2 linked regions of the Homo sapiens genome follow. The protein of the gene in region 1 interacts with the protein of each later gene in a pairwise test. Each region holds a gene or a part of one and is shown in the gene's direction. Other genes may lie near its edges.

Region 1 (5,285 bases):
TGGGTCAGATTCCAGCCAGCCTTTTCTCTGTTTGGTTTCAGTGTGTCGTCCTGTTTTCAGAGTCTTTACAGTGCTATTGGAACTGCCCCTCGTGAGTGCCGCCCAGTGGCCAGTCTGAGACCTGGGTGGTCTGGATCTTAGGTTCAGAGTCTTTCAGATACTGTTTATGATCAGATCCACACAGGCACAACTTGGGATGAGGCCAGGAATTTATAAACAACTTTTTGGGGTCACTTTTCTGAGCTGTTAACTCTCTGGGTACACTTTAGTTACCTGGGACTGCCTTTTTCAGTCCCCCACCTGGAATGCTGGGGCTTCATATACCCTGCTGTGTCCAAGTGCCTGCAACTCTGCCCTCATCCCGCCCTGCGGCAGGAGTTGAGAAGCTCTTAGAGCTTTCAGGTGTAAGGAAAAAATTCCTTTCCCCCAGAGTTTGAGTTACCTGGGGGATGTCCCCACTGCTACCGTGCTTGGTTGCTGGCAGGAGACCCCTTTCCCACTCCTTGAGCCTCACTAGAGACCTTCTCCTGGTGCTCTCTGTGTGGCTCAGGGCTACTTTTGGGTTTTGGAGCTCCCTCGAGTCCAGGCCAGGGACACTAAAGGAAAAAGTGGTAAACTCTCTGCTGGTTTAGTGGTTCTTAAAATTTTGATCTTCTTCCCCTATCTGCCTGCTACTGTTTACTTTTCAGAGTCCTCAAATAGCTGCTTCATGTATTCTCTTTGGAATTTATAGCTGCATTCAGTGGAAGCGAGACTGGAGGGTGTGTTCAGGCCATCTTATCCAGAACCAAGCTTTCTAGTCCATTTTAATATTTTGTGCTAACAAATATCTATACATACATAATACATATAATACAGTGTAACATATATGCAAAAAAAATTTTTTTTTTGAGACAGAGTCTTGCTTTGTAACCCAGGCTGGAGCACAGTGGTATGAACATGGCTCACTGCAGCCTCGACCTCTTAGGCTTAAGTTATCCTCCCAGCTCAGCCTTCTGAGCAGCTGGGACCGTCAGTGCATGCCACCATGCCTGGCTAATTGTTAAATTTTAAAAATTTTTTTGTAGAGACGGGGTCTCTCCATGTTGCCCAGGCTGGCATAGATGGTTTTGTTTGGGGGTATAATTTTACAAATTGCTTGTGGATCTAGTTCATTCCTTTTAAGTACCTTGCATCAAAGGAGATGTAATATTTGGATTATCCTTCCCTGACTGATGGGCATTTAAGTTACTTTCGGGTTTTACTTGACAAATATAATGCCGTAGTGAGCATCCTTGATAAACTCTTTGCTAACCTGTCTGAGAGTTCTCCAGGAGTTTTCCCAGAGGAAATATTTGAGAAGTAGTACATGGACATTTTCAATTTGATAAGATACTGCCAAATTGGTCACCATAGTGTACATTTCTACCTGCACCATGTCAGTGTTCGTGTTTCCCACGTCCTTGTCAGCACTTTGCTATTTATTATATTCCTCTAAAGAGAAAAAATATATGTGTATATGGAGAGAGAGGTGCCGGGGGAAGAGGGGGAGAGACAGGGTCTTGCTGTGTTACCCAGGCTGGAGTGCAGTGGTGCAATCACGGCTCACTGCAGCCGCGACCTCTGGGGCTCAAGTGATCCTCCCATCCCAGCCTCCCAAGTAACTGGGGTCCCAGCTACTCTGCACGCCACCATGCGCAGCTAATTTTTTTTTTTTTTTTGGTATTTTTTGTAGAGACAGGGTCTCACCTTGTTGCCCAGGCTTGTCTCAAACTCCTAAGCTCAAGTGATCCACCTGCCTCAGCCTCCCAGAATGTTGGGATTACAGCGTGAGCCACTGGACCTGGCCTTAAAGAGTATTTTTATCATCCACCTATCATCTGTCTGTCTTTGTCCTTCTCTCCCTTCCTTCAGATTTAGATTGCCAGTGAGGTTGAGGCTCTTCACATGTTTGTACCATTCCAGTTTTTCCTTTGAGTCACCTGTCTGTGTCTTGTGCCCACTTTCCTGTTGGGCTGCATTTTTCTTAGTGATCTGCTGTAGGTCTTTGTGTGTTCTGGATACTAATCCATTGCCTCTTTTGCTTCTGTGGTCTGTACAAGGTCCATATTTATGGGCCAGCTAAAGTCCCCCTTCAACTTCCAAGGCAAAGCTGTGTGTGAGGGCTGGGTCACTTCTAGCCTCTCCGGTTCCAGTCCCTGGAGCTCTGTGCCTTTGGGTCCTGGTGAGCTCTTGTTGATTGCAGTGGGAGATGGGGAGAATTGCCTTCAGAGCCATTCACTGACTTTCTTGGCAGTCTTCCATTTGGCCACTGAGCAAAGCCGCGTGTTTACCCTCTATCCTGACTCGGGATCTCAGCATGCACCAGCCTGAGAGGGGCCTTCCCCCTGGGATCTTTGGCTGCCTTCCAACATGCTCATGGCTTGTTCCGTCTCACCACATCTCCAAGGCACTCTTCTCCCCTCTTTTCACCTCCCCCACTTCACTAACGCCCACCCTTGAGTCCTCTGGAGCCCCAAGACCTTTCTCATACTATAAATCAGCCTCTTTTCTTCCTGGCCTCCCCCTGCCTTGTGTATAGCTTGCCTCTCTCTGGGGAACTACACTTTCACTGCCACTTTCATGATCGAAGGTCACTCATTTTCAGCAGTTAGTACCTTAGACCCAGAGATAGGGGTTATTTTTTTCCTAGTTGCCCATTTTTTAAAAAAATTTAAATTTAAATTTTAGATTCAGGGGGTACATGTGCAGGTTTGTTACAAGAGTATATTGCGTGATGCCAAGGTTTGGGCTTCTGTTGAATCTGTCACTCAGATAGTAGATATAGTACCCAATAGGAGATTTTTCAGTCCTTGTTCCTCTCCCTCCCTCTCTCCTTTTGGAGTCTCCAGTGTCTCTTGTTCCCATCTTTATGTCCGCGTATACCAAGGGTTTAGCTCCCACTTATAAATGAGAACATGCAATATTTGGTTTTCTACTTCTGGATTAATTCACTTAAGATAAGTGGAGGCAGCCTCCAGCTGCATCCATGTTGCTGCAAAGGACATGGTGGTGGTCTTTCTTTCTGGCTGCGAAGTATTCCATGGCTTGTATGTACCACATTTTCTTTATCCAATCCACTGTTGATGGACACCTGGGTTGATTCTATGTCTTTGCTATTTTTGTTTTGTTTAGTTTTGTTTTTGAGACAGGGTCTGGCTGTTCCATTCACACTGGCATGCAGTGGTGCTATCTTATCTCACTGCAGTCTGAAAATCCTGGGCTCAAGCAATCCTTCTGCCTCGGCCTCCCAAGTACTTGGGATTACAGGCATGTGACATCATGCCTGGCTAATTAAAAAAAATTTTTTTTTTTTTGGTAGCGATAGGGGTCTCACTTTCTTGCCCAGGATAGTCTTGAACTCCTGAACTCAAGTGATCCTTTCACCTCAGCCTCCCAAAGTGCTGGGATTTCAGGCATGAGCCACCACTTATCTTTGCTATTGTGAGCAGTGCTGTGATAAACTTATAAGGGCAGGTGTCTTTTTGGTAGAACAATTTTATTTTCCTTTGGCTATTTACCAAGTAATGGGATTGCTGGGTTGAATGCTAGGTCTGTTTTTAGTTCTTTGAGAAATCTCCAGACTGCTTTCCATAGGTGCTGAATTAATTTACATTCCCACCAACAGTGTATACGAGTTCCCTTTTTTCAGTGGTTTTGCCAACATGATGTTTTTTGACTTTCTAGTAATAGCCATTTTGACTGGTGTGAGATAGTACCTCATTGTGGTTTTGATTTGCGTTTCCCTGATGACTAGTGATGTTGGGCATTTTTTCATGTTTCGTTGGCTGCTTATATGTTTTCTTTTAAGAAGTGTCTGTTCTTGCCCTTTGCCTGCTTTTTAATGAGGTTGTGTGTTTTTTCTTGTTGATTTGTTTAACTTAACTTCCCTATAGATTCTGGATATTAGACTTTTGTTGGATCCATAGTTTGCGAATATTTTCTCCCATTCTGTAGGTTGTCTGTTTACTCTGTTGATAGTTTTTTTTGCTGTGGAGAAGCTCTTTATTTTAATTATGTCCCAATTGTCAATTTTCGGTTTTGTTGCAATTGCTTTTGAGGACTCAGTCAAATTCTTTGCCTAGGCCGATATCCAGAAGACTATTTCCTAGATTTTGTTCTAGGACTTTTATAGTTTGAGGTCTTACATTTAAGTCCTTAATCCATCTTGAGTTAATTTTTATCTGTGGTTAGAGGTAGTGGTCCAGTTTCATTCGTTTACATATGGTTAGCTATTTTTCCCAGCACCATTTATTGAACAGGGAGTCCTTTCCTCATTGCTTATTTTTGTCAATGTTGTCAAAGGTCAATTGGCTGTATGTGTGCAGCTTTAATTTCTGGGTTCTGTATTCTGTTCCATTGGTCTATGTGTTTATTTTTGTACCAGTGTTATGCTGTTTTAGTTAGTGTAGCCTGGTAGTATAGTTTGAAGGTGGGCAGTGTGATGGCTCTAGCTTTGTTCTTTTTTCTTAGCGTTGCTTTGGCTATTTGGGCTCTTTTTTGGTTCTATAAGAATTTTAGAAGAGTTTGTTCTAATTCTATGAAAAATGATGTTGGTAATTTAATAGCAATAGCATTGAATCTGTAGATTGCTTTGGGCAGTTTGGACATTTTCATGATATTGATTCTTCCAGTCCATGAACATGAATGTTTTTCCAGTTGTGTCATCTATGATACTTCTTTCAGCAGTGTTCTGTAGTTCTTCTTGAAGAGATCTTTCACTCCCTTGGTTAGATGTATTCCTAGGTTTTTGTGTGTGTGTGTGGCTGTTGTAAATAGGATTGTGTTGTTGATTTGGCTCTCAGCTTGAACCTTTTTTTTTTTTTTTGAGACAGGGTCTCACCCTTTTACCCAGGCTGGAGTGCAGTGGCATAATCACGGCTCACTGCAGCCTCGACCTGCTGATCTCAAGCGATTCTCCTGCCTGAGCATCCTGAGTAGCTGGGACTACAGGTGTGTGCCACCACACCTGACTAATTTCTGTAGTTTTTTGTAGAGACAGGGTTTCGCCATGTTGCACAAGCTGGTCTTGAACTCCTGAGCTCAAGTGATCCGCCTTCCTTGGCTCTTCCCAAAGTGCTGGGACTACAGGCTTGAGCCACCACACCTGGCCTCCAGTTCTGTGTTGAATAGGTGCGGTAAGAGTGGATATCTCTATGTCTTATTCCAGTTCTTAGGGGAAGTGTTTCTTCTAGCTGCCCATTTTTATTTTTAATGAAATGTCCCAGAATGCTCATTTTTAAAAGGCTGTTTCTCTTCCAATCTCA
Region 2 (5,285 bases), on another chromosome or scaffold:
TGGCATGAACCCGGGAGGCGGAGCTTGCAGTGAGCCAAGATCGTGCCACTGCACTGCACCCTGGGAGTCAGCAAGATTCCTTCTCAAAAAAAAAAAAAAAAAAAACAAACTGGTATTATTTGTGAACAATTAACTGTCCATATTAAAAAAAACTCCGACAGATTCTACAAAGTAAGAATTAAGATTGCTAGACACAAGACTAACCAATTTCATGGCTGTGGAGGGAGAGCAGACAACTCCAACACTTGAGAAACACATTACCCCAGGAGGTGCAGAAAGGTGAACAATTAATGCCCTCTCTGTACCGTTGAACCAGCATCACTGCCTGAGTCAAACAGCAGCTGGAGGAGATGACACTGACACACTGCTAGATTTGTCACCTCTGTCCACATGCTTTGAACTTGGAAAAATTGATGTGGACATGGGCAGTCAGCTATCCTGCTACTCCTGATGCCATCAATGCAGCTCCTAAATCTGCATTTGAACACTCAGATCCATACAACCTTGTTTCGTTATGATTAATAACAATTCATATGCTTATCCAGATACCTGAAAGTTAACGACATGTGTAGCAACTGAGGCTCCAGTTACTTTGAGACAGTGTTCATGTTTCTGAACTAAGCTATTAACAGTAATCCAAATCAAGTTTAACAACAGATCTTGGAGTGACCTGTGTCCCTTGGGGTGGTTGGTTTTTATGTGAGAGAATGAGATACAGGACATCTCTCTATTGACAATGAGGGGTAACTTTTGGCCCATTTGTTGCCCTTGTAATTGTTAATGAAAGACACCAACAGTCAGGTCGGTTTAAATTCCTGTTAATGAACTGTAATGGATAATCATGGCCTTAGACCATATCCTGGCAAAATTACTTATTGGTGGTTCCCAACCTCCACCAGCGTTCCTCCTTCCAGGGTTTATTCAGTTGGCTGGGTCCTGACCTCACTTGAGATGTTGATAATAGACTTAATTAAATGCTGTATAAGACCAGTTAAATGAATTTTGTTCTAGTCTCTGTCAGGAAGATTAATATGAGTTACTAACAGTGGAATAATAATGGGAAAATTCAAATTCAGCCAAGAATGTATAGGGCTGATGGGTAGATCATTGAGAGAGGCAATTCATCCTGGGCTCTGAGCATTTTTGCTTTTTTTTTTTTTTTTTTTTTTTTGAGATTGAGTCTTGCTCTGTCACTCAGGCTGGAGTGCAGTGGCGCGATCTCAGCTCACTGCAGCCTCCGCCTGCTGGGTTCAGGCAGTTCTCATACTTCAAGTCACTGGGATTACAGGTGTGCGCCACCAAGCCTGGCTAATTTTTGTATTCTTTTTTTTTTTTTTTTTTTTTTTTTTTTGAGACAGAATTTCGCTCTATTGCCCAGGCTAGAGTGCAGTGGTGCGATCTCTGCTCACTGCAAGCTCCGCCTCCTGAGTTCATGCCATTCTCCTGCCTCAGTCTCCCAAGTAGCTGGGACTGCAGGTGCCCGCCACCGCGCCTGACTAATTTTTTGTATTTTTAGTAGAGACGGGGTTTCACCATGTTAGCCAGGATGATCTCGATCTCCTGACCTCGTGATCCTCCTGCCTTGGCCTCCCAAAGTGCTAGGATTACAGGCGTGAGCCACCGTGCCCGGCCTGTATTCTTTTGAAATTATTTTTTAACTTTTGGAGGTGGAGTCTCGCTCTGTTGCTCAGGCTGGAGTGCAGTGGTGCAATCTTGGCTGACCGCAACCTCCACCTCCCAGGTTCAAGCAGTTCTCCTACCTCAGCCTCCTGAATAGCTGGGATTACAGGCACCCACCACCATACCCAGCTAATTTTTGTACTTTTAGTGAATTTAGTGTATTTAGTGAGCCGTTTCACCATTTTGGCCAGGCTCGTCTCAAACTCCTGACCTCAGGTGATCTGCCCACCTCACCCTCCCAGAGTACTGGGATTACAGGCATGAGCCACCACACCTGGCCTAATTTTTGTAGAGATGGAGTTTCACTGTATTGACCAGGCTAGTCTCAAGCTCCTGACCTCAAGTGATCCACCTGCCTCAGCCTCCCAAATTGCCGGGATTATGGCCATGAGACACTGCACCCAGTCCCCTACACGTTCTTGCTTGTATGCCAAGAATGCAAAATCTTGACTACACTTTGCATGGGCCGTTTCTTGGTTGTTTGCAGTAAGCAACATTGAGGGACAAAGACCAAGCTCTTTATATATGTGGTTGATTTGCCAAACTCAGTGCAAGGGCAGCATCCACCTGGGCCCCTCCCTGTCAATCCCCAAAGGTCTTAGGGGGCTGTACAGAACCAGTGCCAACATCACGCTTATGCTGCTTGCTGTACCATGAGTAATAAAGTCTTTGTCTCATGTCTTTTGCCAGCATCCATGAAACAGTATCCAGGCTAGCTTGTTAGCTTGCACAGATGGTAACATCCCAGACTCTTGAAAGACTCTGACATATAGCCAGCATAGTAAAATATGAGTAAGAAATAACAGGTAACAGGACTAAAGGGCAAGATAGAAAACTGGTATTATTTATGAACAGTAACTGTCCGTATAAAAAAATCCCAACAGACATGCTACAAAGTATGAATTAAGGTTACTAGAAATAAAGTTGCTAGATAAAAGACTAATACAAGATAGAATTGTAAGTGCAACAAAGACTTAAGGCTTTAAAAAATATTTAAAATAGTAACAAGTACCCTGTTTAATTACTTCTTTATATGTTTAAATACTTCATTAAAACCACCTATATAGTCTTTTTAGAATATCAAAGCTAGCTGGGCGTGGTGGCTTACACGTGTAATCTCAGCACTTTGAGAGCCCAAGGCGGGCAGATCACAAGGTCAGGAGTTCGAGACCAGCCTGGCCAATATGGTGAAACCCCATCTCTACTGAAAGTACAAAAATTAGCCAGGTGTGGTGGTGGCCACCTGTAGTCCCAGCTACTTGGGAGGCTGAGGCAGGAGAATCATTTGAACCTGGGAGACGGAGGTTGCAGTGAGCTGAGATTGCACCATTGCACTCCAGCCTGGGTGACAGAGCGAGACTCTGTCTCAAAAAAAAAAAAAGTCTGCATCTATATCTGTATCTCAAAGCTGGGTGCAGTGGTGCATGCCTGTAGTCCCGGCTGCTCAGGAGGCTGAGGCAGGAGCATCACTTGAGGCCAGGAGTTCAAGTCTGGCTTGGGCATATAGATCTGTCTCTAAGGGGGAAAAAGATCCCCTCCATTCTTTATTTTACTCAGATTTCAGCGGGGGAAATTTTTTTAAGGAAATTAAAAAAAATAAGCTGTAGAAAAATATTTGCAGTATAAATGGCATCTGCTCAGTTCTGGGGCATAATACAAAAAAATTTTTAAAATGCTATAAGGTGCTAGGATAAATCTATTGAAATACATGCAAGACTGAAAAAAAAAAACTAACCATAAAGACTTAAAAGATGACAAATATAAGTATAGATATACATGTGCATTTCCCTCCCTACTGAGAGAAGTAAGCAAGCATATATGTATGTGTATGTTTTCTAACCCAGTAATGAATAATTGTCTGGGCTGAGTGCAGTGGCTCACTCCTATAATCCCAGCACTTTGGGAGGCCAAGGCAGGTGGATCACTTGAAGTCAGGAGTTGAAGACCAGCCTGGCCAATAATGATCAAACCCCGTTTCTACTAAAAATATAAAAATTAACCGGTTGTGGTGGTGGGTGCCTGTAATCCCAGCTGCTCACGAGGCTGAGGCAGGAGAATCGCTGGAACCCAGGAGGTGAAGGTTGCAGTGAGCCAAGATCGTGCCACTGCACCCCAGCCTGGGCGACAGAACAAGACTCCATCTCAAAAAAAAAAAAAAAAAAAAAAAAAAAAAAAAAAAAAGGAGTTGTCTGTCTTCTCAACCCTTACTGTCATTATATATTGGCCAATGGGCAAGAGGTGCCAGCTTTGTTCTAATCTTGCATTTTGATTACAAGAGAACCTGGCTATGTTTTCATGTGATTTGTGGCTCTTTAATTTTTGAGAACTGGCTTTTTGCTCATGTTTTCCCCATTAGGTTGTCCTTATTTGTATTGATTTATAGAGCTCTATTTTCCTTTCCTTTCCTTTTCCTTTTTCCTTTTTCTTTCTCTTTCCCTTTCCCTTTCCTTTTCTTTTTTTGATGGAGTCTTACTCTGTCTCGTCCAGGCTCTGGAGTACAGTTGTGTCATCTCGGCTCACTGCAACTGCAACCTGCCTCCCAGGTTCAGGCAATTCTCCTGTCTCAGCCTCCCGAGTAGCTGGAACTACAGGCGTGTGCCACCACACATGGCTAATTTTGTATTTTTTGTAGAGATGGGGTTTCACTGTGTTGGCCGGACTGGTCTGGTCTCGAACTCCTGACCTCAGGTGATCTGCCCACCTCAGTACCCCAAAGTGCTGGGATTACAGGCGTGAGCCACCATGCCTGGCCTTTTTCAAACATTTATTGATCATTTTCATGCATTTTCTTTTTAGATTACTGAGACGACTTGTTAAAATTTTCCCTTCCCTTCCCATCCCGTTGCATCGCATCGCGTCCCGTCCCGTCCCGTCCCGTCCCGTCCCTTCTCACATGCAATGGCGTGATCTCGGTTCACTGCAACCTCCCCGCCTCCCAGGTTCAAGCGATTCTCTTGCCTCAGCCTCCCGAGTAGCTGGGATTACAGGCATGTGCCACCACACCTGGCTCATTTTTTTGTGTTTTTAGTAGAGACGGGGTTTCTCCATGTTGGTCAGCTGGTCTCGAACTCCCAATCTCAGGTGATCCGCTTGCCTCGGCCTCCGAAAGTGCTGGGATTACAGGTGTAAGCCACCGCGCCCGGCCTAAAATTAAATTCTTTAAAAAAACTGTTGGAAGTTTTGATTGTGGTTTTATCAGATTAGTAGATTAATATTTGGGGCTAGTGACTTTTATACATTGTTAGAACTTTTCTGTATTTCTAATTTTTTGGAATACTTATTGTACATTCTTTTATTTTGATACCTTTTTAAAAACACTTGGTTTGGGGAAGAGGAATATGGAAATAAATTTAAGGGACTTAGAACTGAAGATTCATTTGACAATTTTTCTCTGATGTAGAAGGAAACTGAGCTGTAGTGAAAATTTATATCAAGTAGTGTATGATAAAGACTTAACATTTTGTTGAGAAACATCGTATTTTAACTTGTTTTCCATACAGTGGCATTTTACCTTTATATTTTTTGGAAAAAAAGATGTCGAACTCTAAGCACATGTGCTTGTTTCCATTAGATAGAAGAAAATGGACCATCGGTGAATCCATTAT

The links. Proteins that work in one complex are often made in the same cells at the same time.
Region 2: the proteins of HSF2BP (region 1) and GPBP1 interact in binary tests that used the Homo sapiens proteins (3 or more experiments, as listed by UniProt).

The regions. Positions count from the first base shown.
Region 1 is NC_000021.9:43,606,851-43,612,135, reverse strand, and holds part of HSF2BP (heat shock factor 2-binding protein), read left to right. Parts: intron 1-2,146; exon of another isoform or gene 2,147-2,249; intron 2,250-5,285. UniProt on the Homo sapiens protein: Meiotic recombination factor component of recombination bridges involved in meiotic double-strand break repair.
Region 2 is NC_000005.10:57,225,407-57,230,691, forward strand, and holds part of GPBP1 (vasculin), read left to right. Parts: intron 1-5,285. UniProt on the Homo sapiens protein: Functions as a GC-rich promoter-specific transactivating transcription factor.